Linked DNA regions of Homo sapiens: region 1 is linked to region 2. Evidence: fine-mapped expression QTL. A gene starts in region 2. The other region holds a variant in brackets. All regions are shown on one strand. Distances are between the middles of the regions.

Region 1 (16,022 bases), 140 kb before region 2:
CATGAAGGTGGCGAGTCAAAGGTCTGGCAAAGCAGCAGCTGGAACAAGGAAACTGATCTCCTCTCCCCACCTGAAGGTTTCTGGATATGGGAGAGGGAGCATCAGAGAGCCAAGAGGCAAGAAGTGCCTTTGAGGAGCCAGGTTTTAGTTAAGAAGGATGACTTCAGAGCACAGAATAGAAATTATGGGGGAGAAGGAAGTGAGGGACATCTTAAAACACTAAGAGATGTGCTAAGACATGATTCTATCTTTCAAGACACTGACTTTTACCCTATTTAAGTCTAGAACTCCATTATCATAGTCCTCATCTAACTCAAGTTTTGTTTTAAGTTTATTTTGGCATTGAGTTAAATATTAATGCCAAGATTCAGAAGTAGGTGACAGACCTAGACTATTGGTTAAATTATTCAGATTGTTTTAATTTTAAATATGTTTCTTAAACATCTGAGCAACTTTTTGTTTGATACAGATGATGTCTACCGTAGAAAAGCCTCAGAAAGACAGTATCAGAGAAGGCTGGAAGATGAATGAGACTGAACTTCAGCAGTCAATAAAGTCAATATGAATTTTTACTATTGGTTTCAGTGCCTTTTAAAATATACTTTTCAGATCTCTTGTTCTGACACAGCTTGTCCTTTATCAGCTGCACAATATTCCAATAACTGTTTTTGCAAAGAATTTTTATAGTTCTGTCTCTGCTTGAGTACTTCCCAAGTCACTGCTGGACAGCACTTGTGGGAAAATTATTTCCTCCTAAAACACTCACTCGATGAATCTAGTCCATGAAATATTTCTTAAACAATTCAAGGATCAATCAGGATGCTTTTCAGTGAAGCCCGAATTGTTTTCGGCAATCTTTGTTTTTAGGCAACTAATTATAACCTTATTTACTTTTTTGCAGAATTCAAATTAAATTATGGACACATTCTCTATTGCCAGATCATTTAAACCAGGATAATTATGCAGGTTGTATTTCTGCCAGCTACTAGACTATAAACTTTTTGCTAGGGTGGTGGAAATTCTTGATTGACTACGCATTTCTCATGCTAGTGTTCTTGTGAACAGAAATATGCTCCTCCCTTGCTTGGCTCCCCTAAACTGCAAGGGCTGGATCTTCATGAGGACTGTGGGCAACAGGTTTCACACTACTCTAGGATGAAGATGTTGCTGTTCGATTCAGCTGCTAGAAACAGTTGCTCCTTCCATGAGAAAGTGAACCTACACAGTATAAAGCATCCCAGACTTGAGCTAAATCAGAGGCTCAGTCTATTGAGTGATTTGGCAATCTGACCCAGTGTAAGTTTGGATCAGCCTGGTAGAAAAAGCAGATACCTTTCCATGCTTGCATAGCCACATCTAACATCGTTTCAAGCAAAAAAAAATCTACATACTAAAGACTAAGTTTCAGAATAGTTTCTAACTATTGCATGAGAATAAAGCTGATGCTTAAGGCCATAGGGTATCCTCAAGTTAATGATCTCTGCCACAAACATGTCTCCTAATTTTTTCTAGATTTTTCTTCTAATTTTAGTCCACTTATCTTAGAACCAATTCAGTAAAGAACCATTAACTAACTACTCCCATCTCCTTAAAGCACTACCTACACTACAGTGCAGCAAGCCCAGAGTCACAGCTGGGAGATGGCTTGAATGTGAAAGGCCAGTAATGACCTCTGCCATCAGGGAGAGGACGGTGGTTCATCGTATTCTCATGCCCAGTTGTGTCATCTAGGATTCCTGGTAAACCTAACCTGATAAACCATTTTTAGTGACTTGACTGCTGTATAAAAACTATAGTATGATTCTCAATTATATGGCCATACTCCATGTTTGCCCTAACCCACCTTGTTTTAGGAGTTTAGTATTTGATACATATAGAAAATACGTCATACCTTTTACAAAGAATAATAGTAAACACTAATAAAACCATTGGCTAACTTTTGTGTCTGCTGTGGGTTCATTCCCTGGCCCATCCCCCTGCTTCCACCCCACAGAGAACCATTAGACTGAATTTTGTGTTGGCCTTCTCTAGAGCTTTCCTCTCCATTTCTTTTTCTTCTTTCCATTAGAATGTTAATTTATTTAAGGACAACAGACTTTGAAAATGATGGCCAGGGTTGGTGGCTCAAGCCTGTAATCCAAGCACTTTGGGAGGCTCAGGCAGGAGGATTGCTTGAGGCAAGGAGTTCAAGGCCAGCCTGGGCAACATACACTCCGTCTCTATTAAAAGAAAAAAGAAGGCTGGGTGCAGTGGCTCACACCTGTACTTTCAGCACTTTGGGTGGCCGAGGCAGGTGGATCACCTGAAGTCAGGAGTTCGAGACCAGCCTGACCAACACGGAAAAAGCCCGTCTCTACTAAAAATATAAAATTAGCTGGGTGTATGGCTGGGCATGGTGGCTTACGCCTGTAATCCCAGCACTTTGGGAGGCTGAGGTGGGCAAATCACGAGGTCAGGAGATCGAGACTATCCTGGCTAATACGATGAAACCCCGTCTCTACTAAAAATACAAAAAATTAGCCAGGCGTGGTGGCGGGCACCTGTGGTCCCAGCTACTCGGGAGGCTGAGGCAGGAGAATGGCGTGAACCCGGGAGGCAGAGCTTGCAGAGAGCCGAGATCGCGCCACTGCACGCCAGCCTGGGCGACAAAGCGAGACTCCGTCTCAAAAAAAAAAAAAAAAAAAAAAAAATTAGCCGGGTGTGGTGGCAGGCACCTATAATCCCAGCTACTCAGGAGGCTGAAGCAGGAGAATCGCTTGAACCTGGGAGGCGGAGGTTGCGGTGAGCCGAGATCGCGCCATTGCACTCCAGCCTGGGCAACAAGAGTGAAACTCCGTCTCAAAAAAAAAAAAAAAAGATTGGACAACTTCTGACTTTTAGGCAGGTAGACTACCAAAGCAATTATTGTATTCAATGGAAGATAGGTTTTCAGAGCACATTAGTTTGGATGCTGTGAGTGAGAACTCATTTGTTAGGGTGCAAGCTTTTTTTGAGATGAGTTTCACTGTCACCCAGGCTGGAGTGCAGTGGCATGATTATAGTTCACTGCAGCCTTGAACTCTTGGGCTCAAGCGATCCTCCTGCCTCAGCCTCCCAGGTAGCTGGGACTAGCTAGCTACCATGCTTGGCTAATTTTTAAATTTTTTGTAGACACAGGGTCTTGCTGTGTTGACCAGGCTGGTCTCAAAATCCTGGGCTCAAGCAGTGCTCCCACCTCAGCCTCCCAAAGTGTTGGGATTACAGGCATGAGCTACTGTGCCCAGCTAAGGTATATAAGCTTTTAATTTTTCCTCAAAAGTATTTTTAACTCTCCTACTAGGAATGACTCTATCCTACTTATCAGACACTGAACTATTTAAGGGCGCCAGGAGTAGTGGCTCATGTCTATAATCCCAGCACTTTGGGAGGCTGAGGTAGGAGGATTACTTGAGCCCAGGAGTTCAAGACTAGCCTGGGCAACGTGGTGAAACCCTGTCTCTACAAAAAGTACAAAAAATTAGCCAGGCCTGGTGGTGTGCACCTGTAGTCCCAGCTATTTGGGAGGCTGAGGTGGGAGAATCACCTGAGCCAGATCAAGACTGCAGTAAGTATGATCCCAGCACTGCACTCTAACCTGGGCAATGGAGTGAGACCCTGTCTCCAAAAAAAAAAAAAAAAAAAGCCGTGAAAAGAATTGCAGTACCACCAACTGTAAACTACAGGGCATAAATTTTAATAAATTTCAAGAACTATACTTATTGCAGAATGCTGAAAACCTGATTAGCATTTATTACTAGAACTCTACCTCCACTGTGGTGTTGGGGAAAGAATATGGGCTTTGGAGTGTCACTTTATTATCTGAATTTATAGAGAAAGTACCTAATAATAGTACAACAGTATTACAGCCCCCCCCAAAAAAAGAAAGAAAAAAAGTAGTGAATAAATGAGTTATTTTTGTTCATCTAGCAGTTCTATTTTGGAAGTCTTACCTACATCCCTGATGTGATATTTAATCTCCATTTTGTGTGTGTGTTTAAATTTTTCACACTGAATTAACTCTCTTTAAAGAAATATACTCTTAGCTGGGCGCGGTGGCTCACGCCTGTAATCCTAGCACTTTGGGAGGCCGAGGCAGGCGGATCACGACATCAGGAGATCAAGACCATCCTGGCTAACACAGTGAAACCCCATCTCTACTAAAAACACAAAAAATTAGCCGGGCGTGGTGCTGGGCGCCTGTAGTCCCAGCTACTCAGGAGGCTAAGGCAGGAGAATGGCGTGAACGACAACAACAAAAATATATATATATACGCACACACACACTCTTGGACCCTGTTGTTTTCCAAAGTAATTTATCTCCTAGTAAAGCATGTTAGTGCTTAGTCTTCACACGAGTATTAAATCTGGAGTTTCTTGTCTCATTTATGTGCTATCTGCAAGATGTAAATACCATGAAATAGCCAAAACAGGGAAAAGGGACAGTCCATTAATTTGTTTAGTTCTGAACTTTCATTCAGGGACCTAACATACTTCCAGGCTAAAATGGAACAGAGTAGGCTGGGCGCAGTGGCTCACACCTGTAACCTTAGCACTTTGGGAGGCTGAGGCAGGTGGATCACTTGAGGCCAGGAGTTCAAAACCAGCCTAGCCAATATGGAGAAACCCTGTCTCTACTAAAAATTCAAAAATTAGCCAGGCATGGTGGCGCATGCTGCAGTGAGCCAAGGTTGCACCACTGCACTCCAGCCTGGGTGACAGAGTGAGGTTCCGTCTCAAAAGAAAAAAAAAAAAGGAACAGAATAATAGCAATATTTGTTTGCTCAGTGTTCAGATGGGATGTCTAGCTATACATCAATGATTGTTCAAAATATGCTCAGGGGCACAGATGCCGGTACTATCCTAAATTCAGGAGAACAGAACCACAGGGATTTGCAAAGTGATATTAGAGGAAAACAGTTGGTTGCTTTTACCAACACTTTCTATTAAAAGCATGGTCATGTTTTAAGAGTTTATAAAGATGTTAAAGACACCTGGGCCACCTGTTTCTTCTGGCCACAGACAAGCTATTTGAAGTGGGCTATACTGCTTACATGCTTTCCTCACTTTCCGCCCTCAGTAATTCTCCAATTTTAATTTCAACCTGCATTTCTGCCCATGCTGAGGACATGTAGGAATTCCTTGACTGCCAGCCTGAGGCGTGGCGTGGGGCACTTCAGTCTGCAGTCTGACTACATTTGGCTCTGTGTTAATGCAGCCCGAGCCCTGAACCAGAGGTCTGGACACTGACTTTCATCTCCATCTGTGGAGCTTTGTTCTCTTAAATTGGCAGTCACATACAACCTTGTCAGCATGAAATCAGGGCTTGCAGGAGTTAAATCTGCTTGAAACATCTGACACCACTTTAACAGAACAACCAAACCTGGTTAATCCAAATCACTTTGCAAACTCTGTATTTATTTGGATTAAAAAGCTTTAGATGAACAACAAAAAAAAGATACATACATGTTATAAGACTAGTTACCACGTAAACCTCAGATGATATGATACAGAAATTAGAATAAACCAAGTTTTAATCAGGTATGAAAACATTCAAGCTCAAAATCATCAACACCAATTTGGGGATTTTACAGAAATAGGTGCCCCTCTCAATTCTTCCTCATAGGAAGGGGAGAGTGGCTTAAAAAAAAAACAACAACCAAAACAGTTAAAGGCCTTTTAAATCAGTTGGCTGACAAACATACTGTTTTAAACCTACAGGTTCCCCTCAGTCCCCCCGTTTGCAATATAAACAATTCTTCTCCACAGGAACTTACATTTTGAAAACATTTAGGCCATTATACTTTCTAAGCCACATTACTACAGTTCCTAAAACTTATGAAAAAAAGGTGTATAGTTTACTTGTACTTTCTTGAGTCAATTTTTTTTTCTTTTTTGAAGATGGCTGACCTCAAATCTTATATCCTAAATATTAACGATATCCCCCAAGTTAATATACAGAAAAACATGATTCTAAAATAAATACACAGGCTTTTTAAAAAAAACTTAATTAGGGCCTGTCTAGTGATGCCCTGGGCCGGTGCTGCACTGCTTTAGGGAAGCCCCTGGCTGGATCTATGTTTCCTATAGCACCTCTAGGCACTGGGAAGGAGCCTGGAGGAGAGCTCTGGCTTCTAATGACCCACGTGGCCCCCAGTGAAAAATTTTTTTAGAGGCTCCCCAAAGAAGTCTCATCCAGACCTTAAGGGAAATAAAATGAATGCATGAAATAAATAAATAATTTAACCACAACTAAATTTCATGTTCTTTGGTGTAATTCAAGGATGTCTAGAAACAAAATAATCTGATTGCATTATACAGTCCATGATGATTCAATTGCCCAAATAGCCAGGAATTGAAGATTTATCTGACTCACTTTAACAATAAGGTACTGACACACTACTGCAATACATTTTTTTAAATTCAATATTATTTAAAATACTTGATGCAAATTCAAATCCAGTGGTTGACTAAAGGCAATTAAGTTAAAGGGCCTCCCATATTTAAAGTATCTAGATACAAGAGACTTTTTTCCATTCTACACTCTTTTGCCCTCATGATTTAATAAGTACAGTAATTAAACATCTGGGTACTGATTCATAGCAGATTAAAAGGAAAAAAGCATCCTCTGAGATTAACTCTCTCAGATTATAAACAGCAGTGGAAGCTCTACCACAATGGCAATCACCCAGTTACTATAAAGCAGGTTTCAAAAACATGCCGCCAAGTGAAACAATGTTCCTACTGTCTGCCATCCTATGCTGCCTTCAAATGTTTATTGTAGGGTCATATAAGAAAGACAGGGTCACCAAACCCAAGTGTTTGGGATCTGTAATGGTCTTTCTAGTAAGCGTTTTATTAAATTATGATTCCCTTCTCCTGTAATTCAAAAGCACAAGCTAAATTTAAAAAATATTTTAGAAAGTATTAAATTTCTGGTTGAGAATTATAACAACATTGAAACTTAAAAGAAAAAATACATCTGATAATAAGGAAATAAGGAATACTAAAACATACTTGTATATGAAGGCAATCAATCTACTTGTTCACAATTATGCTTCTTATACAGCTCATATCTAGTTCCATACTCTCTTACCCATGTTAGGTTAGGTGTTATGTTTAAAAATAAATCACCTCCATGCATACCTTAATGCTTTCTTCAAGACGAACTTCAATGTTTTTCAATGTAACAGGTTTAAAATTTTAAATCATCTGAAATTTATAGGCATAAATTGTGAATTCATTATAAATAGATCAAAATATCCTTAAACGTACCTGCCTAGATTAAACATACCTCAGGGTTGTGCACGTGTTCTGCAAAAATCACTGACACCATAGTCTAACTCACAGATGTCTAACTCAGCACAATTGAAAAAGTGCTTTTTCCCCTCCTGGTGTCCAGGAGGTACATTAGCTGCAGACAGATGCACAGCACTGATTACATATTTC[T/C]GTAGTGAGCCTCTGAGTTAATAGAGCAAATGTGCTGTGTCTATTAAACATCTAAAACCTAAATAACCACCTTTCAAAGAAAGCACTTCATCTGTAAGAAACAGCTTTTGCAGAAAGTGGCTTAAGATATTCAGGCACATGAAACAAACACAAGTATACTCCCCTCTCTAAGATGTAAACTAGGACAAACTTCACATTTCATTATCAATTTAAACTAATCTGTAAACTCTTGTGTGTGTGTGTTTTTTTTCATTTTGTTCTTTTATATATATATATAAAAAAACCCAAAACCAAGAAAACAAAAACCCCAAGCCAAGACAAAAACCTCTAATGGTTTCAGTTCCATGGCAACAAGTAAAAAGATAAAACTCCAAGTCTACATATACAACCAATTATGAAACTGGTTTTAAACGAAGGAAACATATGCAAAAAAATCTTTGTGTATTTGATAAAGTCAACTTAATATAACAAACAAATTGAAATAGCTTATTAAAAGTGTCCGTATATAAAAATGGCCTTGTGATGTACAGTAAAATGCAATAAAAATTATCCTCCTTTGTTCCTTCCCCCCACCCCCAGTAACTAAAATGGCTACTGATCCACAACTCTTTATGCTTCTATATAAAAGAAACGTAATGATGTGATTAAACATTTTCTAGGTTGTATGCTTGGCGAATGTTGAGGGTGTCCCGGAGCATCAAATCTCGAAGGCGCCAGAGGGCATCTGCCATGGTGGTGTGGGCCCCTTTGCTTTTCAGCCAGTGAGAGGGTAGGCGGCTCTCCTGTTCTTTCGACAAATGGACGTCGCGTCTTCGAGCTGAAAATTAAAGTACAGAGAGACAGAAATTAGAATTTTAAGTTGGCAAAATTTCCCTCAGTTCTAAGGTCTGACGAACTTATTAAAACACAAAACATTGAATATTTATTAAATATTATGAATTTTAACTGCAGAATATTTCCAGGCACATTTCTTATATCATTTTACTAGGCACTAAAAGATTTGATCATAAATTTTTTTTTTTTTTTGACATCGAGTCTCGCTCTGTCGCCCTCGCTGGAGTGCAGTGGCGCGATCTCAGCTCACTGCAACCTCTACCTCCTGGGTTCAAGCGATTCTCCTGCCTCAGGCTCCAGAGTAGCTGGGATTACAGGAATCTGCCACCAAGCCTGGCTGATTTTTCTATTTTTAGTAGAGACAGGTTTCACCATGTTGGCCAGGCTGGTCTTGAACTCCTGACCTCAGGTGATCTGCCTACCTTGGCCTCCCAAAGTGCTGGGATTACAGGTGTGAGCCACTGCACCCGGCCTGATCATTATTTTTTTGTAGGCATCCCTGATATTTAATAATTACTTCAATGTTAACAAAAATTCCTAAAAAGGTAAACATGTGAAGAAAGGGAAAATATACCTTCTACTCTAAAGAAATGAAATGAGATGACCAAAGTTGGTTTAGAAATCAAGAACAAGTAGAAACTTCCAAACTTCTCTCCAGAAACTACACAAGTACTTTAGTACATACTGAAAATACATAAGTATGTTGAACTAAATGAATAGCCTAATCGGTTTCTAATATTTTTTTCCTTTTGTTAAACTGAGGTAAAATAGTTTTTTTTTTTTTTTTAGACAGAGTCTTATTCTGTCACCCAGGCTGGAGTGCAGTGGTGCGATCTTGGCTCACTGCAACCTCCACCTCCGGGTTCAAATGATTCTCGTGCCTCAGCCTCCCAAGTAGCTGGGATTACAGACACCAGACACCACGCCCAGCTAATTTTTGTATTTTTAGTAGAGATGGGATTTCACCATGTTGGCCAGGATGGTCTTGATCTCCTGACCTCAAGTGATCTGCCCGCTTCAGCCTCCCAAAGTGCTGGGATTACAGGCGTGAGCCACCGCTCCTGGCCCTCATCTGGCTAATTTTTAATTTTTTTGTAGAGACGGGGTTTTGCCATGTTGTCCAGGCTGGTCTCAAACTCCTGAACTCAATCGATCTGTCCACTTCAGCCTCCCAAAGTGGGAGCCACCGTGCCTGGCCAATAATTTTTAATTTACCCAATGCATCTATACTAATGTCCAAATGCCTGAAAAACAAAACAAAACAAAACAAAACAACAAACAAAAAACAATGTACTTAAAAAGATGGCAGTGATGTTTATGAGAAAACTAGGCTTTGAAATTTGGCAAAAAAAACCACAACAACACTTTTAGGCAGGGCGCTGTGACTCATGCCTATAATCCCAGCTCTTTGGGAGGCTGAGGTGAATAGATCACCTGAGGTCAGGAGTTCGAGACCAGCCTGGCCAAAACGGCGAAACCCCATCTCTACTAAAGATAAAAAAATTAGCTGGGCGTGGTGCTGAGCACCTGTAATTCCAGCTGCTCAGGAGGCTAAGACACAAGAATCGCTTGAACCTGGGGGTCGGAGGTTGCAGTAAGTCGAGATTGTACCACTGCACTCCAGCCTGGGCGACAGAGTGAGACTGTCTCAAAAAAAAAAAAACAACCCAAAAACCATTTTCAGGCCAGGCACAGTGGCTCACGCCTGTAATCCCAGCACTTTGAGAGGCCGAGGCAGGTGGATCACTTGAGGTCAAGAGTTTGAGACCAGCCTGGCTGATATGGTGAAACCCCATCTCTACTAAAAATATAAACATTAGCCAGGTGTGGTGGCATGTGCCTGTAATCCCAGCTACTGGGGAGGCTGAGGCAGAAGAATCAGTTGAACCTGGAAGGCGGAGACTGCAGTGAGCCAAGATCGCGCCACTGCACTCCAGCCTAGGCAACAGAGTGAGACCCTGTCTCAAAAACAAAACAAAACAAAACAAACCATTTTCAGTGTGTTACGTAAACATGCAAAGAAACTCCAAACCATTTATGAAATATATAATTTATTTTAATTGTATAAGAAAAAGGGGTGTTTATTGTATGATATACTATGCTAACAGCAGTAAGACAGCTTTGAGGAAGCATGTATTTCACAAAGGCTTATTTAGAAGGAATCTTACCTGCCAGTGTCTGATCCCACTTGCTAATGCTGTTGGACTCCGCACTGAGTCCTTCAATGTATTTCAGGTAGGCCTCTGAGTGAAGAAGCCGCTGGGTCTTTGGTGGGGGAGCTACAAACATGGGTGTTGTTGGCTGCTGTATGACAGGGGGTCCAGCTGGATGTGGGCCGGGATATGGAGGTGGTGCCTGCTGCCCTGGAGGCCCCAAAACTCCCACCTGAAAGAGCACAGGACCACATGGTGAGGCAAAAAGAGACTCTGCACATGTTCTGAGAAGGATAACTCGAATTCTGTCAAGTCCTAGAAAATCAAACTGGGAGGCTCACCTGTTGTCCATATGGACTTCCACCTGGTGCTGGAGTCCCTACCATAGGGGCCACTCCTTGGTTCATCACACCTATAATTCAGAATGCAATGGCACAGTTAGAGGCTCTGGGTTGAAATGACTGAAAAACTACTGTCTGATAAGAAATGATGCCATTCATAATTCAAACCTATGTACCTCTGCCCTTGAATCTTTGTGGCTAGGAATCTTAAGCACCCCAATAGGATTTGAATAGAAAGTTGTTTTGTTTCTAGGTACTTAAAGTATAATACTAGAACAATCTGTCAGATGTACATCAATTATGGCTTAGAAATGATTTGAACCTTGCATAAAATTCTAGTATTTCTCTAGGTAAGCTATTGTCAGAATATACCTCTACATTCAAGGTGTTTTTCTTCTGACAACACATTCTCCTGCAACTGAAGCCTGTATTTAATTTAAGCAGGAATGGCACTGGAATCAGGCTCAGCAGTAAGCAATGTGCTAGGACAGCAGGGACACAAGGGAAGAGGCTGTGGAAGTGCATAGTTAAATGAGCTTTGTGAAGGCTGAAGGCACAGCCTTGCTATCCCCTCCCAGACCATCAGCAGCTGGTTCTAACTGGAGTCACTAGTGCTGGCAGGGAGAGAACACTTCCATCTGATAGAGTAGCACTCTGAAAAGGAATCATCTGAAGTGAAGTAACCTTGTTGCTATTGCTTTATATGCAAAATGACAAAGGAACAGAGAGACTTCATGGCCCTACTAGATTTGTACTATGTCCCTGATAATAATTTTGTAAGCTTCCCTCAGTGAATGCTCACGAGCAATTGTTGTCTCACAGGCACAGCTGATAATAATGAGATGTCCTAAATTTAGTGTCAGAGGCTCTTTTGATTTCAGGGTGCATATTTGCTATTCTGATAAAATACAGAAATAGGCAAGGGACCCAGTTCATTAAAATCAAATAAACCTAAAACTGTGGTGAACTGTTCTTGAAAACTTAAACAAATCCTGCTGGCTGTGTAGAAGAATCGAGAGGAGGTATAACTTCATAGTGTATAGTCCCTTCGGATTAAAAATCGTAATATTTTGTCCAGGCAGAAGCAGCTCCTCATTCTAAAGTTCAGAACTGTTTCATGAATTTGCATGTCATCCTTGTGCCATGCTCAACTCCATATTGTTCCAATTTTAGTGTATGTGCTGCTGAAGCGAGCACTAAGGTTCAGAATTGTTAAATGCCACTTCCAGGAAGCATAAGAGAGCCTCTTATTTGTTAGAAAATAACAAGTAAAAAAGCTTCTGTTTAAAAAGCAGGGAGTTTTATATTCCAAGTACCCAGAAGTCCACCCGGATCACCAAAGTAGGATCCTGATGATTATTCGTGAATGAATGAAGAGGTTGTGGTGGGTAAGCTGGTGCCCCAGCAATATATTATTAACCTCTGTGCCCATCACCTCCCTGTGCCCTGGGACACTCACCCACCTTAGATTCCAGAACACGGTGTGGCTCCCTAAACTGTGTAAATCATTGCTTTGCAGGGCAGCACAAATCAGCAAACTCTTCTGCTTCCTCTATTGACAAATGCCATACTTGGGCAGCCGGTGAGAATCTGAGCTGAGTCACCAAAAGAGCTCAATGAATCCCCTACTCCTCTAAGCCTGCTCAGACATGTGCATTTGTAGGCACTAAGAGGGGGTCTTCCCTGACTCCTGGCTTCTTTTTTAATTAAATAAAATAGATATGGGGTTTCACCATGTTGCCCACTGGTCTTGAACTGCTGAGCTCAAAGCAATCCTCCCACCTCAGCCTCACAAAGTGCTGGGATTACAGGATTGAGTCACTGTGTCCGGCCCTGTCTCCTCAATTCTAAGCAGGTGTGTTGGGCTTCCCTCCAGTTGAATTTAGGATTTCAGGAAGGTGGAAAGGAAGACAGCTATGTCCCAACACCCACCAAAAGACATCTGCAACCTAGAGGGTACTGGCATTAGACATGGATCCCACTAAGTGCACCTAGAAGGTGTAAACTCCAGCCTGGTCTTATTGGCTCAGTGATACCCTGTATCAAGGTGAGAGGGCAAAAAATTAAGGCCAAGTCTACCTGCCACATGGGAACATTTACCTTATGACTGACTCCTGCTGCAACAGCAATTCACACAGTCCACTGTTTTCATATGAAGCACCTAACCCTACAAACACTTCCTCCTCTGGCAATACCTGGAGCAAATGCTTCTGTGGAATTATGGCCATATTCTAAGCAACTCTCACAAAGAGTGTGGCTGGAGGCTCCAGGCCAGGCCACCAAGTTTGCTCACTCTGCACACTGCTGGGTGCACCCTCCAAAGCATCATTTGGTACCCTGCAAAACCCTATCACTGGTAGGTCCAACACTGGTACAAGCAAATTTAACAAGTTTCCAACCACATTTTACCATTTGGGTTGGGCCCTTAGCTGATGTTGTAGGTAATGGACCAAATGCTTTCCGAGTCTTCCAAAGGTCACATTCCCTCCATCCAGATTACAGCTAAGAGTTCTTTTGCATATGATGGCAATTAATATGGGAACATGTGATTTTCCTTTCATTTAGGTTTTCTTTAAAATAATCTTTCAACTTGCTAATTCACATTTTAAAGTGAAAATGAATGTCGCTATTTCTGGAATCCATTTATATATTTCTATATAAAAGAACTTCTAAGCTTCTGTTGACAGACAAACCAGTATCTACAGCTAGGAGGGTAGGCTAGGCTGTTCTTTAATGTCAGGCTTTTTTTTTTTTTTTTTTGAGACAGGATCTCATTCTGTCGCTCAGGCTGGAGTGCAGTGGTGCGATCACCACTCACTGCAGCCTCAGTCTCCCCAGGCTCAGGTAATTCTCCCACCTCAGCCTCCTGAGTAGCTGGGACTACAGGCACATGCCACCACACCTGGCTAATTTTTCCTTTTTTTTTTTTTTTTTTGACACGGAGTCTTGCTGTCGCCCAGGCTGGAGTGTAGTGGTGCAATCTCGGCTCACTGCAACCTCTGCCTCCCAGGTTCAAGTGATTCTTCTGCCTCAGCCTCTCGAGTAGCTGGGACTACAGGTGCCCGCCACCACGCCCAGCTAATTTTTGTATTTTTAGTAAAGACGGTGTTTCACCATATTGGCCAGGCTGGTCTCGAACTCCTGACCTCAAGTGATCCGCCCACCTCGGCCTCCCAAAGTGCTGGGATTACAGGCATGAGCCATCGTGCCCGGCCTAACACCTGGCTAATTTTTATAGAGATGGGGTCTCACCAGGTTGCCCAGGCTGGTCTTGAACTCCTGGGCTCAAGTGATCCACCTTCCTCATTCTCTGAAAGTGCTGGGATTACAGGCATGAGCCATTACACCTGGCATGTCATGCTTCTTAGGGAACTCACATACAGAACACTAATTCAGTGAAAATGCATTCCCTCCCTGCTTTTTGTTCTAAGACAGACTGAGTGAAAGATTTCTGAAGAGTTCTACCTTAGCAGCTCTGCAATCCCCTTAGAAAGGCTGCTTGAGGAGAAGTAGGAGATGGAACAGATACTCTATACCCTGTGAGATAAGAATTGCACCAGAGGGAGAAATGCAACTCAGGGGCAAAAAATGCTTTTACATGTTACTCTGAACTAGCAATTTGGGAAACTTCATTCACTGATAAGAGGACACAGCCTTCTAGGCTGTCTGGCTTTTCAAGGACATGTCAAATTAGTTGAGTGATTATCGATAGAGTATGCCTCTTGTCCCTTGGTTTGCTGAGTCTGGCCTCTGCCATGTGTGCTGTGCTGCTGCCAGCAGCCAGGTGCACAAGGGCACAAGTGCTGGGCCACCTGCTGAATGCACAAGACATGCCCTGCTGCTGACAACCTTTGGATTCTCAGGGAGGGAAGGCCTGGCCACAATGGGCCACGGGTGCCTCCTGGAACAACTGGTTGAAAGCGGAAAAAGAGAATATGAAGATGAGATTAATGAGTGAATGAGGATGAAGTTCTTACCCGGTGGTGGGATGCCCGGGAGGCCAGGCACACCTGGCGGAAGATGGTGGGGTGGAGGCCCCCCAGGGTGAAGTGGCTGCATGCTGCCCATGCTAACAAGGCCATCAACTGGGCCCTGCAAAGGTGGAAGGCCTGGCGGATAGCCACCCATCATGCCTTGAAGGACACAACAAATTTCAGACATGCATCATTAACATGCAACATGAGCTAAGTAATAACAACCAACCCCCACATGCACTACCAATGAATAAAGCACCCTTAGTACTGCATGATATAACAGCAATTAGTGCAATTATTTTGCTGCAATAATGAACAAAATAAAAAGTTACAAATATGAGACCCAACATTTTGGGATGAATTAGTACTTAGTACACTATTATTTGTAGTTATTTTCCCTGGGGTAAATATGCTGCATGTTTTCAGTTAAATAATAGTAAAGAGTTCTAGTAACAGCCTTCCCAAGGAAATAATTATTGCAAGCTGTTCAAACAGAGTGACCAGTTCTGCTGACTGCAATTCTAACTGAATAGTATAAACCCCATCATTCCACTCTGCCCACACTCATATGCCTATCATGGGTACACATGAGGGGAAATAGGAAGGGAGGGAAATGAGCGCATAGTCCTGATCACAAAGCATGGTTCTCCAGCTTTGGGGCAGGAATTGTTCAAGACTTCTACATCTACTCCTCCTTTCTAGCCTTACCACTGCTGGTAAGAATGGATTGTGCTTGGGCTTGAGTTGGGGAACAGCTTCTAAGAACCATCACAGTGAATGATATTTCCTTCTTTAGATCTAAAAATGTGATAAAGATAAAACCTAAACACTCCCAACCAAGCCAACCAAGTCCAGGTCACTCAGGAGCCTACACACAGACTTTACGGAGGAATGGCTGGAGAATTGGGCTCTGCTGATATGAGAAAATGCCAAATGCCATCAGTCTCCAAGCTCAAATGTCCTCATATAAACCTTAACAGGGAGCATTTTAATTTGAGGTACACAATTTCTGTGAACAGAGGCTTTTATTCCTTTATTTTCAAAGTGTACCTACACATGACAAAATATTTTCTACTGGCTAGAGAAGAGTTTCAGCAAACAAGTATTTTTGGCAGAAGGAATAAATGTAAGAAAAAAAATTCAAAATGTCAAGGACTCACCTATCAAAAGACCTTTAAAACCACATGGCATTTTTTTAAAACAAGAAAAACAACTTGACTTTTCTGGGATTTGTAATGATCATGATGAATAAGAAC
Region 2 (16,022 bases):
AGATGATTTAGGGTATCTGGCAGAAGAAACTTCTAAGCAGCAAAGCATTCAAGAGGTGAGTTGGGTACTGTTTAAGGCATTCAGTTTTATAAGGGAAGCAGAGCATAAAAGTTTGGAAAATTTGCAGCCTAGTCCTGTCCAAGAGAACCCTGATTAATACAAAAACATAGGGGAAAAGCTTCATGATATTGGATTTGGCATTAATTTCATGGATATGACACCAAAGGCACAGGCAACAAGAGAAAAAGACAACATAAACTTCATGAAAATTAAAACCTTTTGTACATCTAAGGACACCGTACAAAATGAAAAGGCAACCTACAGAATGGCTCTATCACCCAGGCTGGAATACAGTGGCGGGATCTCAGCTCACTGCAACCTCTGCCTCCCAGGTTCAAGCAATTCTCCTGCCTCAGCCTCCCAAGTAGCTGGGATTACAGGCGCCCCACCACCATGCTCGGCTTTTTTTTTTTTTTTTTTTTTGAGATGGAGTTTCACTCTTGTCACCAAGGCTGGAGTGCAACGGTACGATCTCGGCTCACTGCAACCTCCACCTCCCGGGTTCAAGTGATTCTCCTGCCTCAGTCTCCCAAGTAGCTGGGATTACAGGCGCCCACCACCAAGCCTGGCTAATTTTTGTATTTTTAGTAGAGACGGGGTTTCACCACGTTGGCCAGGCTGGTCTCAAACTGCTGACCTCAGCTGATCCACCCGCCTTCGCCTCCCAAAGTGCTAGGATTACAGGAATGAGCCATTGCGCCCAGCCTTGCACCTGGCTAATTTTTGTATTTTTTAGTAGAGACAGGGTTTTGCCATGTTGGCCAGGCTGGTCTCGAACTCCTGGCCTCAGGTGATTTGCCCACCTATAGACCTCCCAAAGTGGTGGGATTACAGGCGTGAGCCACTGTGCCTGGTCAGTACTCTTTTTTAAATATTTATTTTTAGGCAAGCTCTTGCTCCATCACCCAGGTTGGAGTGCAGTGACACTCATGGCTTACTGCAGCCTCAAATTCCCAGGCTCAAACAATCCTACCACCCCAGCCTCCCTAGTAGCTGGGTCTATAGGTGAGCACCACCACACCTGGCTAATTTTTCAAAAAATTTTTTGTAGAGATGGGTCTCACTATGTTGCCCAGGCTGGTCTCAAATTCTTGGCCTCAAGAGATCTTTCCGCATAGGTCATTTTTTTTGTTTTTGTTTTTAAGAGACGGGGTCTCATTATGTTGCCCAGGCTGGTGTCATACTCCTTGGATCAAGCAATTCTCTTGCCTTAGTCTCCCATGTAGCTGGGATTACAAGTGCATGCTCCTGTGCCTGGCTCAAAAAATCAAGTAGCTGGGATTATAGGTGCATGTTACTGTGCCTGGCTCAACAGATTTTTAATTTAAAAAAAGCTTCACTACAGCTTGATTACTAAAGACTAAAGACTAAAATTGGACCCCAGTATCATTTAAGCCATTCCTGCCAACAAAAAGCTCAATTTCCAAACACTTTAATACACATGGACTCTGGACCAAATCCCCCGCAACTGTACTGATGTGCTTCGAACTCACCTTCGCTTTGGTGCCCTAATGAAGAGCTCACAGAGAAGTCTGCCCTGTTCATCCTTATAGTCTCGGATGGTATTATAGAGTTCATGGCACACGGCAATCTACACATTAGCAAAGGAGAAAAAAATCACTAAAAAAGTGAACAGAAAGCCAGTGTAGACATAAGAATTATTTTCTACTCTTCAATAAAAGGCAAGTAGAGAAGAAAAATGATGACTCTCAATATTACCAAACATGCTAAAGTCTGAAATATGCTGACAATATGTCTCCTTTCAAACAACTGAGTTGACTAACTTTTTGGTATCTTTCATCAGATTTATGCTCCTGGTGATTTTGTCTTCTAAACTATATCAGTTCATCACTTTCTTGCTTAAAGTCATCCAATTGAAGGGTTTTCTTCTTTGAAACTAAATCAGTTTATCACTCTCTTGCTTAAAGCCATCTGACAGAAGGGTTTATCACTTCACAGAGAATAAAATCTAAACTCCAAACATTGCTTGTGTGGGCCCTACATACTCTGAATGGGTGGAGCTTGCCAGTTTCCTTCTCCTTCCTGACCATCCCCTGCTCTGTAACCAAGACACACAAAACTCATCCCTGACCCAACCCCTCTGCACTGGTTCTGTCTGGAACTCTCTTCCAGCGAATTCAGGCCAAAACAGCCCAAATCACCCAAAATTTTCTTCTTAGCACTTATTACTAGCTAAGGATACATTATTCTTTATTCGTTTACTTGTTTACATTCTACTTCCCCCGCCTGGAATCTAAGTTCCATGTGAAAAATGGGCTTGTTTCCACATGGCTATATCCCAACCATGAGAACAGTGCTTGTCACATGATAGTCACACAGTTATTTGCTGAATTAATATATGATGTAACATACTGAAATTATTCATAAGATCACACTATTACTCTAAGACTTAGCTGAATACATAATGTTCATAAAAGAAAAGACTATTAATCAAGAGAATCTTAAAAAAGTGGAGATGCCTTGCATCGTAACAATTTTACCATTAAAGGGAAGATAGGGGAATTGTGGGAAGAGCAGGCAGAAACCATGTAATCCAAGTTACTCACAGGATCTACAGTTGGAAGATTGGAAAGTCTCCTCCTTTTCCTGCTTGGGCCTGGTGTTGACACAGAATGGTGCCCATCATCAAAGTCCCCGCTGACACTGCTGGAAGGGGAGGTAGCTCTTCTTCTCTTGGAACCCATGGAATCCAACTTCTTCTATAAGAAATAATCAGCCATGTTCTTACATTTAAATAGACTCTGTCACCAAGTCTTCAGCTGGACACCTGCTACCAAACTCCTGGCTCACTTAGGAGGATATTTTAACGTGTTGTAGTTTAACTAGCTATAAGTTTTTTTTTTTTTTTAAGCCCTGGACTTCCTTGTTTTAGTCTTTCACTTACCAGAATGCTATACTTCCAATTTTGATGGGACAAATTCAACAAAAGCATATTCATTTGTATATCAGCAATCTTGAATGACTCAACTTCTGGCTCCAAATTTGGCCTAGAGTTTCCCAACCTATATGTAGCAGTACATTAGTGTGCTGAAGGTATTAAGCCTTCAGCCCATGAGGCAGTCAGGCAGGCCTGGGGTACAGAGGCCCCAAGGTATCCACCTCTGGAGTCAGCACCTCATCTGCTTCTCTATGTGCCTTACAATTATGATCATTTGCTAGGTGGGCCATCATGTGGAAAAGAGCAAGAAGCAGAGCCCAGGACAAATGAGTAGTGCAAAAAGGTAAGGGGACAGAGGACAATTAACCTTCTAGCACTTTAGATGTACTCTAAAATTAAAACCCTGAAAATGAATGTTCTCCATTCATTAAAACAGGATCCACAAGACATATCCCTGGAAAACACTTAATGAGACTTGCTATACCTAGACAGAGGTACAAACTATCCTTTGAAACTCTTCTGTTAATTCAAACTAATCACCTTTTAGTGATATGACATACTCTAACTATAACACGTACTCTATTTAACTATAACAATTTTAACTATAACTCTATTTACAACACAAGAAATGCAACCACTGAATGATCTGCTACAGATAGTATATACCCAAGAAAGTCCTGCAATGCTTATATTGCAATACAATCTAACAATACTATCAAATAGTATATTGTGATTTGAAAGGCCTTTTTCTTTCTTTCTTTCTTTCTTTTTTAGGTGGAGTCTCGCTCTGTCACCAGGCTGGAGTACAGTGGCACGATCTCTGCTCACTGCAACCTCCCTCCACCTCCCAGTTTCAAGCGATTCTCCTGCCTCAGCCTCCAGAGTATCTGGGACTAAGGCGTGTGCCATCACACCCAGCTAATTTTTGTATTTTTAGTAGAGACGGGGTTTCACCATGTTGGCTAGGATGGTCCCAATCTCTTGACCTCGTGATCCGCCCGTCAAAGGCCTTTTTCTAAAGCTAAAAGAAAAAAAAAGATCCCAGTTTCACTCATCAACACTGAAGGTATTGATCCTTCAGCCCCTGAGGTAGTCAGGCAGGCCTGGGGTTCAGAGGCCCCAAGGTATTCACTTCTTGAGTCAGCACCTCATCTGCTTTTCCATGTGCCTTACAATTATGAGGAACCTCATAGAACTAGAGTACCTCATAATTGTAAGGCACATGGAAACACTGAATTTCAGGACACTACGACACCAGCAGCTGAATGATTAGAACAGGAGAACACTGGTTGCCAGCAGTATGGAAAGAAAGGTTGGGGATCTCCAGGAAACAGAAAGAAGGAGCAAAAGAATCACATTTGAAAATCCTGGTGAGCAATTAAGGAAAAAGAGAAGTCTCAGATCTCTTTTTCCAAACTAAAGTCCACATGGTGTTTAAAACAAAATCTACCACGATGATGTTCCTTACTCTAGGCTTCGGTTTGTTATACAGTATTATTAGTTTGAAGTTGGCTAAAAGTAGTTAAAATCGTCAAAAGGCTTAGCCAAAACTTAGCCAAGTTTTGCTGATTTTTGTTCATTTTATAAAAAGCTGATCAACAGGACTCAATTCATTAAGATAAATTAAGGACCAATCCCTTTTAAACAATCTATGACAAAGACACAAGTGAATTTGATGAACATAAGGAGGGAATCTTTGTGGAAAGGATAACAAAAATTTAAGAAAGGTGGAAGGAAAAAGTCAAGGAAGGACAGAAAAGGGAAAGGGTGTAGATAATCAGTAATTTACCAGCTTTACCAGAGCACAACCAGCGCCTCGAAAAGCCAGTCTCCTCATTATGTCTGAAAGCCAAGTGAAGCCAGTGGGAGAAGGAAGGGCTTTAGAAGTGCTGATTCAGTGTTAGTATATTCAAAACTGAAAAAGAAGAACAAGGCAGAGAAGGGGGAAATAGAAAAGAAGGGTCAGAAGGAGTAAAAATGAGTACGAATAGATAGAAAACATTCAAATAGAACTGCTAAAGAAAGATAAAGAGAACTGGAGAAAACAGGCATATCAGTTCTCTTGTACCTATCAAACAAACTGCTGCAAAGGCTCAGGCACTAACAGTACCTGACAGTTCTTCCATTTTAAAACCAAATGCTTTCATATGTTTAAAGATGTCTCATTGAGGTTCCCCTTTACTCACATTAGGAATGACTGTCAATTCCAGGAATGAGGCATGCCTGCCCAACTGCCCCCTAGTCAATAAGAGCAGAGTTCAATCACAGAGCTGGAATGGAGAGTGAATACATGTGGGAGGCTCACATGTGACACCAAGTGTTGGCAAGCTGGAACAAACCAAGAATGGCTCATGTGAGCAAAAGGTCTGGAAAACACCCTCCCCCACAAAAAAAAAATTCAGAGAAAGAACATTTATTTCCAAAAGTCCTATCTGCATTGGAGACACCATATAAAAATTTGACAAGGTTAAAAAAAAAAAAAAAAGGGCCAACCATTTTGGCAGGAGTTCAAAATTACTTTTATAAATAATCCACTGAAAATCAAATGACAAAAAAATACATTATCAGCATGTGTATGTCGTTCGGATGACACAATATCCCAATATCCTTGAATCATTAATTTACTTTGGTAAGATAAGAAAAAGTTTCAACTTAAGGATAATTTTCAAGTATTTTCTTATCCATGGGACACATTTTAAAATGTATTTTGAAAGTCTGACAAGAAGGGCAATGTTATAAGGTGGGAGAAACAACAGGACCTTTGCTCCTAAGACCAGAATAGGAGTCCTAAGTCTTCCACCTCTGATTATCAGCTTGATGTTGTCTGATTAGTTGATGTAACCTCTCAGATCTGTTTCATCTCTAAAATAAGAACGTAATGCCGGGAGTGGTGGGTCATGCCTGTAATCCCAGCACTTTGGAAGGCCGAGGCCAGTGCATCACTTGGAGTTCGAGACCAGACTGGCCAACGTGGTGAAACCCTGTCTCTACTAAAGAAAAATACAAAAATTTAGCTGGGTGCGGTGGCTCATGTCTGTAATCCCAGCGCTTTGGGAGGCTAAGGCGGATGGATCACCTGAGGTCAGGAGATCAAGACCATCCTGGCTAACACGGTGAAACCCCGTCTCCACTAAAAATACAAAAAAAATTGGCTGGGCTTGGTGGCACGCACCTGTAATCCCAGCTACTTGGGAGACTGAGGCAGGAGAATCGCTTGAACCCGGGAGGCGGAGGTTGCAGTGAGCCGAGATGGCACCACTGCACTCCACCCTGGACGTCAGAGCAAGACTCTGTCTCAAAAAAATAATAAAAAAAAAAATTAGCTGGCTGAGGCAGTGCATGCCTGTAAACCCAGTTACTTGGGAGGCTGAAGCATGAGAATTGCTTGAACCCAGGAGGCAGAGGTTGCAGCAAGCCGAGATCATACCACTGCACTCCAGTCTGGGTGACAGAGCGAGACCGTCTCAAGAAAAAAAAAAAAACAACATAAAGTGAAATCACTTCTGCATGTTCCCCAGGCACAGGAACAGCATATTCATTTTTGTAGACCTGTCTTACAGGATAGTATTTGGTATAGGTTATGTGCTCAGTTTATCTTTTAATAAATGTATTAAAAGTGCACTTAGGGCCAGGCACAGTGGCTCATGCCTGTAATCCCAGCAATTTAGGAGGCTGAGGTGGGCAGATCACCTGAGGTCAGGAGTTCAAGACCAGCCTGGCCAACACGGTGAAACCCCGTCTCTATCAAAAATACAAAAAATTATCTAGGCAAGGTGGTGGCATGCACCTGTAATCCCAGGCACTCGAGAGGGTGAGGCACGAGAATTGCTTGAACCAGAGAGGCAGAGATTGCAGTGAGCTGGGATTGCGCCACTGCACTCCAGGCTGGGGGACAGAGTAAGACTGTCTCCAAAAAAAACAAAAAAAAAGTGCACTTGAGACCTTCAAAAAAAAAAGTTTATTTGTATAGTTTAAAAGTCCTCAGCCAGGCACAGGGGCTCATATCTGTAGTCCCAGCACTTGGAGAGGCTGAGGCAGGATGACCGCTTGAGGCAGAGAGTTCAAGACCAGACTGGATAACATAGATTGATCTTTTCTCTACAAAAATTAAAATTAGCTGGGTGTGGTGCTGCACATCAGTAATCCCAGCTACTTGGGATGCTGAGGTGAGAGGACTGCTTGAGCCTAGGAGCACAAGGCTTCAGTGAGCCATGATCACTTTACTGAACTCCAGCCTGGGCAACAAAGTCAGACCTTGTCTCAAAAAAAAAAAAAAAAAAAAAAAAAAAATGCCTGTAAGCATCCCTTCAGCAATTTTGTCTTTCCATGAAGAGGAAAGACAGATTCCAGAGTTCAATGCCAAGTTTTAAAATGGCCTTGATTACAGTTACAAGTTCAAAAGTCTAACAATCAATAATTTATAGTGGACAGTTAAGAATACTTAATAATGTGCAACTGGGAGAATATCGACTTACTATAGACAAACAGTGTATTTCGACCGTTTATGAACTTTAGCCCTCTCCTATATTTCTAGTAATATTTAGCAATACAATACATGTTTAAAACAAAATCTTGGAAAACAGGACTCAAAGGAAAAAAAACACCTATAAACCTACTTCCAAGAAAAAAACCACTCTTAACGTTGTCATTCGGTTTTTGGTATTTATGCCTTAGTTACCTATTATTTTTTACCAAAATGTTAACAAACCACATATATTATTCTACAGCCTGTGTTTTAGTGAAGGTTCTTCCAAGTCAACATTCTTCCTCATGATGTTTGATGACTTGATAGTAATCTATCATATAGATACACCACAATTTACTTATCTTGGGAATTTTGGTAGGATATTAACATTTGAGGTATTTTGTACATTCCCAAAGCCAAAGAAAGCGGTCAAGGCCCTTCCATTCATCCACACATAAACTCTTTATTGTTTTAATTTGAAACACCTCTTCAAAACATATTTTCCAATCTTCCATTTTGGAGCTCAAAATCAAATATGGGCGACCTGTAAGTAATAAAGCAAAAATTATGCTACTCTTTTATGTGCATGAGTCCAATTTGCACTTTTTGGGGAAAAGCACATAGCCAAATGGAGAAAAAAATAATACCTAAAATTATTTGTCAAGAATCCTGTGTTGGAAAGTAAGTTAATTAAAACAATTCACCCCAACATACGCTTCTATAATTATTGTAAGAATTTCTATATCCACTATACCGTGTACTTATTTTTCAGGGCTTTTTCTATATTTTTGCAACTCTTTCTTCCCCTTTAAATTAAAACTTATTATAATAACAAAACTGTGCTTCCCCAAACCAAGAAATATACACAGTTCCCAAAATCCCGGATTCTTTGTGGTGTTGAGAAGCTGAAATATCTGGCCTCTACTATAAATACAAGTCCCATTGATTAAAATACCCGGAAAAAATACGGAAAGAAAATCACTAAGAGTTTGTGTCGAACCGTCAAGAAACCACAACAAAAAAAAGAGGCCCTGAGCAACGGAGGAAATGAAGGACTTTCCCGACCTGTCACTGGTATTGGGGACTGAGGGAAACGTTGACAGCTTTGAAGCTGCCCCGCGACGAGCGGGAAAGAGGAGCGCGGGGAGTTTCCGACCCGTAGTGCGCCTTTGTCCCTGCCGGCAGGTGCGACAAGGCTACTGGGCCCATCCGGAGGCCAGCCGCCGCGCCCCGCCCAACCCCGCGCGCCCGGCCCGACCCGCGCGTCCCCACGGCCGGGGCGGGGCTTCCGCCGCGGCTCCCGCCCGCCCGGGCCCACACAAAGGCCCGGCAGCTGACCAAGGGGGAGCGGCCCCACCCGCCCTGGGCCCGGCCTTACCCAGCCGCTCCGCCGCCTGCAGCCCCGGCCGCGGTCACCGACCGCCGCGCCCCGCCCCGTGGCCGCCACGGCTGCTGCTATTGCTCCTCCGGCCGCGGCCGCTGCCGTCGCTTCGGCACCCGCCGCCCTCACCTCCCTTACCCCTCCCGGTGCCGCCGCAAAACCAGTCCCGCGGCCGCCAAGCGATCCCTGCTCCGCGCGACACTGCGTGCCCGCGCACGCAGAGAGGCGGTGACGCACTTTACGGCGGCAGCGTAAGTGCGTGACGCTCGTCAGTGGCTTCAGTTCACACGTGGCGCCAGCGGAGGCAGGTTGATGTGTTTGTGCTTCCTTCTACAGCCAATATGAAAAGGCCTAGTAAGTGGGGTCGGGAGGCGGGCGTGGAGGGACCCACGTCTGGAAGTTGCTGCAGCCACCACGACGCTCTTCTACGGCTACGGCTTTGTCTCTGCTGGTATGGGGGTGGGAGCCTACGCGTAGGCCTTGGCCCTATTTCCTGGTAGAACCGAGAGTTGGAAGTCCCTACGGCGATCATGTTAACCGCGCGGGCTCATTCTGCGGAACGAAGCCGGGCAGAGGGTGGGGAAGACTAGGCTAGATTTTCGTAAGGAAGCAGCGTCTGAGCCAGGTTTGAGGCCCAATATTTTCTTTCCGTGGCCACGTGCAGACTGGCCCAGGTGAGAGCTGAGAATCGCCTCCCAGACTCAGTGTTCCTCTCCTGCCTTATGATTCGTGCTGTTTGACACGAAGTGGTTGTCGTTTTGTGTCTCATACGCTGTTGTGTATGATCCCATTCTAATATTGTGAGGGTAAGTGCAGGGAATTTTGACTCCATTCTGGATCTACTGAATTTAATTCTCTGGGATTTGAAAGTAGCACGTATGTTTGCATTAGGCATTTCGCATTAGACTTAACGTTAGGTTTGGTAGCCAATAACACAAGAAAAGGATATAACTCCATAGTGCGTTAACCCAGAACTAATCATTTGGGTTAACAGATTTGTGATGTGTTTCTTTGTAGAGTTAAAGAAAGCAAGTAAACGCATGACCTGCCATAAGCGGTATAAAATCCAAAAAAAGGTAAGTGTAGTGCTTGAGAGAGCTGTACCAAACACATTGCTAAACTGATTTTGCCCTGTTCCTTTGCGGGAAAGTCTGGGTTAATGTGATTTGGTTTTGGGAAATGGCATTGGATAGACTGACCATGGGCACAAGCTCTTAGGCATCAGGAGTGCAGCTGTGAGAAAGTGCAGTGATTTGGTGATAAGTCTCTAAATTTGTTCAGCATGTTAATCTCTGCATAGAGAGCCTTCTAGTTACAATTTCTTGCTGTTTTATACTTACATATGCATTACTTTGTAAGATTCCAATTAAAGCTCCATTTTCCTAGGACATTTTATAGGCATAACTAAATTGCAGCCAGATTGGTTTCTCACTTGAATTCTGCTTAAGTATAAAGATATTTTTGTAAGCAGACAAAATCTCTTTATTTTAATAGGTTCGAGAACATCATCGAAAATTAAGAAAGGAGGCTAAAAAGCGGGGTCACAAGAAGCCTAGGAAAGACCCAGGAGTTCCAAACAGTGCTCCCTTTAAGGAGGCTCTTCTTAGGGAAGCTGAGCTAAGGAAACAGAGGGTAAGTTATGTTAGCCAGAATTTTCATTGAGTGGTGTAGTGTGTTATGTGTGATATTTTTCAGAGTAAGGTAACAACACTAGTCACTGGTTCACCTATTTCCCTTATGGCTCTGACAGCTTGAAGAACTAAAACAGCAGCAGAAACTTGACAGGCAGAAGGAACTAGAAAAGAAAAGAAAACTTGAAACTAATCCTGATATTAAGCCATCAAATGTGGAACCTATGGAAAAGGTATGATTAGGTCTCTTTATGAATGAGAGATCAGGGGTTTTGATTTTGGTTTTTTTGCTTGGGCCTGAGTGCAGTGGCACAATCACAACTCACTGCAACCTGGACCACCCAGGCTCAAGCAGTCTTACCACCTCAGTCTCCAAGTAGCTGGGACTACAGAAGCACACCATCACGCCTGGCTAATTTTTTTTAGCAGACACGGGCTTTCACTATATTGCCAAGGCTGGTCTCAAGTGATCCACCCAACTCAGCCTCCCGAAGTTTCTGGTATTACAGGTGTGGGCTGTTGTGCCTGGCTGAGAGATGAGTTCTGATGCAGAAATAAAAGCACATCCACAGGCTGCTGAGCTTCTTGGGAGGAAGACAACTGAGTTCAGACTCCATCTTACCTATTTAACAACTGCAAGGGCTGCTACTCAGCTGTGGAAAATGGAGTTAGAGGTTACAGTTGCTCTACTTCTAATTTTGTGTTATTTCCCCCTTTATCCTCTAGGAGTTTGGGCTTTGCAAAACTGAGAACAAAGCCAAGTCGGGCAAACAGAATTCAAAGAAGCTGTACTGCCAAGAACTTAAAAAGGTATCTTAGCCTAGGTCAGTGTCTGACAGTAGTAATGAGGTTTAAAAGACTCAAGTCATTTTTTTTTTAACCTTTTAAGATGAAGGGTGCATGTGCAGGTTTGTTATATGGGTAAACTTGCGTCATAGGGGTTTGCTGTACAGATTATTTCATCACCCAGGTATTAAGCCTAGTACGACATTAGTTATCTTTCCTGATCCTCTCCCTCCTCCCACCTTTTCACCAACAAATCATTTCGTGACTCGACTCTAGCTTATGCTGTTTAATGCCTTTCCTGCTATGTTTACCTGACGGAAATAGTTTCTTTGGTTCTAAATATTTGCACAAAACTGGTTCTGCCTGTAAGCATGATTTACAACATTAAAAAAAAACGTTGACATAGTGTTGAGATTGAGAAAGGTACATTGGAGTAAGCAGTGTCAGGCTAAAGGTCTCTAAAGTACTCTGTTGAAACCTAAGTGAAGGAGGACAACTTGGTGTAGTTGCTCTCCAGCACTCCCATCCCCAACATCCATTTTCCCAAGCTCACTCCCCCATGGATAGAACCTGACTGCCCCTCAGCAGCTTTTGGCAAGGCCAGAAGGACCTATCAAACTATATAATTCACTATGGGAGGATTCAGACAGGGATATTTGCATTTTTGAAATCCATCTTGATCAGAGACTGCTGAGCAAGCCTATGTTTTACTTTCCTGTGTGAGAAATGATGAGGGTCAACATTCTTCATACCAAAGTGAAGACATGAGATCCAACTCTGAGCTCACCCTGTTGCTAAATGGATAATGCCAGTACTCTCTTGTGGAAGGTATTACCAGAACAAGGGATGTAGTTCTGATCATTTTCTCCTTGATAATGTAGTTCTGGTCATTTTTTCCTTGATAGGTGATTGAAGCCTCCGATGTTGTCCTAGAGGTGTTGGATGCCAGAGATCCTCTTGGTTGCAGATGTCCTCAGGTAGAAGAGGCCATTGTCCAGAGTGGACAGAAAAAGCTGGTACTTATATTAAATAAATCAGGTGAGTAAAGAGGGTACCCTTTGTCTTCTGTGTACATGGGTGAGGTACGAGGAAACAGTCTGATAGTCACTGAAGACTGATTAGATCCAACTCTGATCTCAGCAAAGCCAGAGTACGTGCACTTTGCCAGAGACAGTGCTAGGCAGTGGGGAGCCAGGTGACTTTTACAACTGACTCAACTGGTTTCTACTATTCTTTTGCCATTCAGTATTTACCATCTTTTAAATAAAGAGTGTAAGCTGCTATACCCAGCTTATTGTGTAGTATATTTCATCTAGGAAGTGATGACAGTGTGACAAATTCCCCACACCTACACAATGTCGGGTATTAGTTCAAGAGTGAAATAAATTGGAACGTATGTGACAAAATATTTAAATGAAATGCATAATTATGCATCTGAGTTTGAGCAGCAGGAAAAAGAAAACCCAGAACAGAGAATTACAAAGCAGAAAATGGGAATGAGATCTAAAATTGTTGTTGGGGTTAAGAAACAATTGGCTGCTTGGGAGGCTGAAGTGGGCACATCACTTGAGGCCAGGAGTTCGAGAAAAGCCTGGCCAACACGGCGAAACCCCATCTCTACTAAAATACAAATATTAGCCGGGCATGATGATGGGCACTTGTAGTCCCAGCTACTCGGAAGGCTGAGGCAGGAGAATTGCTTGAACCCGGGAGGCGGAGGTTGCAGTGAGCCGATACTGTGCCACTGCACTCCAGCCTGGGCAACAACACTTCGTCTCAAAAATGAAGAAACAATTGGCTGCTAGCTAAAGGTAAATTCTGGAAACATAGCTCTAGGGTTAGTAGGGTTGTAATCCAGACGTTGAGTCTGTCCTGAAGTTTTCAAGTGAGCAATACAAGGGGAATTGAAATAGAGAAGTGCAGATGCTGAGCTCTGTTAAGATACGGGCAGTATGGTAGGGGAGCTTACCCTGCCCTGATTTTCTAGTTAAATCCTTTTGAAAGGACTGGGAAAATGTAAACCAGAGTAAAATCTATAGTTGCCAGATTTTGCAAATGCATCTCAACAAAATAGCCACATTGGAGCAAATGTCTTTTTCTTTTTTTCTTTTTGAGATGGAGGCTTGCTGTGTCACCCAGGCTGGAGTGCAGTGGCGCCATCTCAGCTCACTGCAAGCTCCACCTCCCGGGTTCACGCCGTTCTCCTGCCTCAGCCTCCCGAGTAGCTGGGACTACAGGTGCCCACCACCACGCCCAGCTAATTTTTTTGTATTTTTAGTAGAGACGGGGTTTTATCGTGTTAGCCAGGATGGTCTTGATCTCCTGAACTCGTGATCCGCCTGTCTCGGCCTCCCAAAGTGCTGGGATTACAGGCGTGAGCCACCGTGCCTGGCCGCAAATGTCTTATTTCTAATTGCTATCAGATCTGGTACCAAAGGAGAATTTGGAGAGCTGGCTAAATTATTTGAAGAAAGAATTGCCAACAGTGGTGTTCAGAGCCTCAACAAAACCAAAGGATAAAGGGAAGATAACCAAGGTATCCTTTATTAGTGGTAAGAAATGTGATTCTTTCAGATTTTGGTTGAAATATGATGAGTGTACAAAATCTTGATTTAAGTGAATGAAAAATTACAAGATCCAACTCTGATTTCAGCCAGAGATCATCTGAAAGGCAATGTAGTTATCTTAAGAGCTGGGCTCTGGAGCCTGATTGCTTGGGGTTTGTTGAAATTTATCAGGTAAGTTGCCAGAATAATTCAACTATTTGGAATTTTAGCGTGTGAAGGCAAAGAAGAATGCTGCTCCATTCAGAAGTGAAGTCTGCTTTGGGAAAGAGGGCCTTTGGAAACTTCTTGGAGGTTTTCAGGAAACTTGCAGCAAAGCCATTCGGGTTGGAGTAATTGGTGAGTTTCAGTTCATTACTTTTTACTTTTTAAGTGTTGAAATAGTTAAGAAGTTTAGCCAGCTCTCCAAGTGCCCAAGCAGCAGTGTATGGAGTTGTTGTCAAGTAAAAGGCTCACTCAAATACTAGCTTCTTGCTTATACCTTACTGAAAGCACATAACCACACACAATTTAAAGAAAAAAACTTACACAACTGCTGCCAGATTCAGGTTTTTTGTTGGGACTGATTACTGTAGGAAGCTGGTTTCTAAAAGTTCTTGGTTTGTTTGAATTTATAGTATTTTCCTGCCTTTGCATTACTTGTGCAAGAAATGAAGAAACTAAAATTGGTCTTAGTATTGAAGTGAAGACACTGAGATCCAACTCTGATCTTGCCCTAAACATCAGGGAAATGGAAAATTAGGCAGTGAAAATTTCATAAGTGCCAACATATAATGCTTTTTATATCTGGATTTCCCATTTATTTGTAGGTTTCCCAAATGTGGGGAAAAGCAGCATTATCAATAGCTTAAAACAAGAACAGATGTGTAATGTTGGTGTATCCATGGGGCTTACAAGGTAAATGGAGGTGTCCATAATTGTAATATTATAGTGACACACTATTTTATTTTGGTTATCTCAAGGAAGGTGATTTTTTTTTTTTTTTTTTTTGAGACAGTTTCACTCTTGTTCCCAGGCTGGAGGGCAATGGCGCAATCTCGGCTCACTGCAACCTCCACCTCTCAGGTTCAAGTGATTCTCCTGCCTCAGCCTCCAGAGTAGCTGGGATTACAGGCATGTGCCCCCACGCCCGGCTAATTTTGTATTTTTAATAGAGACGGGTTTCTCCATGTTGGTTAGGCTGGTCTCAAACTCCTGACTTCAGCTGATCTGCCCGCCTCGGCCTCCCAAAGTGCTGGGGTTACAGGCCAAGCCACCGCGCCCGGCCTATTTTTATTTTTTAAAGCTTTTGGTGAAAGCAGAGATTTAAGCCAGTGCTAGAACTGATTGGAGTGGGACAGCTGCCCACAATTTAGTTTGAAAGACAAGTTCAGCAGATAGATTGAGAGAGAGGAAAGCTCCCTCAGAGGAAGTGATGTTTGAACCTGGCCTTGAGAAATTAATAGAAATTTGCCAGATAGAAGTCTGCCACCACACCTGGCTAGTTTTTGTATTTTTAATAGAGATGGGGTTTCACTGTTGGCCAGGCTAGCCTCAAACTCCTGGCCTTAAGTCATCCACCCGCCTAGGCCTCACAAAGTGTTGGGATTACACTTGTGTTGGGTGGCATGAGCCACTGTGCCTGGCCAACTTTTAGATTTTTTTTTTTTGGGAGATGGAGTCTGTCTCCCAGGCTGGAGTACAGTGGTGCTATCTTGGCTCACTGCAACCTCAGCCTCCTGAGTAGCTGGGATCAAAGGCACCCGGCTAATTTTTGTATTTTTAGTAGAGACAGGGCTTTCATCATGTTGGCCAGGCTGGTCTCAAACTCCTGACCTCAGGTGATCCACCCACCTCGGCCTCCCAAAGTGCTGGGATTACAGGCGTGAGCCACCGCGCCCAGCCAGAAGGTGGCATATTTATAGCAAAGGAAATAGCATGTGTTTTGGTTGATGTAAATATATAAGCTATAACATGTAGTGTTCTCTTTAGAACAGTCGGGTATGCTGTTACAGTTTTAGATAAATGTGAAGCAAATGATGATAAACTGGATCTGACTGACTGTGCTGAGTCTGTTCAATCCAACCCTGAGCTTCATGTTCTGTCTCTTAACCTCCAAATAGACCAATGCCCCCATCAATTCCATCGCTCTTCTTTCAGGAGCATGCAAGTTGTCCCCTTGGACAAACAGATCACAATCATAGATAGTCCGAGCTTCATCGTATCTCCACTTAATTCCTCCTCTGCGCTTGCTCTG

The links.
Region 1: its variant is fine-mapped to the expression of PBRM1 in whole blood (INTERVAL, PIP above 0.99).

The regions. Positions count from the first base shown.
Region 1 is chr3:52,539,955-52,555,976 of GRCh38, forward strand. PBRM1 (polybromo 1) reads right to left here. Exons shown (of 32, transcript NM_001405607.1): 29 at 14,770-14,925; 30 at 10,793-10,863; 31 at 10,467-10,683; 32 at 5,413-8,281. The coding sequence ends at 8,109. It overlaps UQCC5 (ubiquinol-cytochrome c reductase complex assembly factor 5), which reads left to right. Exons shown (of 2, transcript NM_001124767.2): 2 at 470-1,936. The coding sequence ends at 531. It also overlaps the pseudogene RNU6-856P. Among named protein-coding and RNA genes, the nearest start is that of UQCC5, 11 kb to the left of the region's middle. The variant T/C (reference allele first, on the strand shown) is at 7,465.
Region 2 is chr3:52,676,947-52,692,968 of GRCh38, forward strand. PBRM1 (polybromo 1) reads right to left here and starts at 8,967. Exons shown (of 32, transcript NM_001405607.1): 1 at 8,803-8,967; 2 at 2,628-2,780; 3 at 1,554-1,651. The coding sequence starts at 2,765. It overlaps GNL3 (G protein nucleolar 3), which reads left to right and starts at 9,086. Exons shown (of 15, transcript NM_014366.5): 1 at 9,086-9,159; 2 at 9,823-9,881; 3 at 10,300-10,437; 4 at 10,556-10,669; 5 at 11,163-11,246; 6 at 12,128-12,260; 7 at 13,646-13,758; 8 at 13,999-14,125; 9 at 14,596-14,683; 10 at 15,926-16,022. The coding sequence starts at 9,147. It overlaps SNORD136 (small nucleolar RNA, C/D box 136), which reads left to right and starts at 11,941; the gene lies at 11,941-12,087. SNORD19 (small nucleolar RNA, C/D box 19) reads left to right here and starts at 12,294; the gene lies at 12,294-12,369. It also overlaps SNORD19B, SNORD19C and SNORD69. RefSeq lists silencers at 8,554-8,703, 8,774-8,923 and enhancers at 8,561-9,249, 9,244-9,313.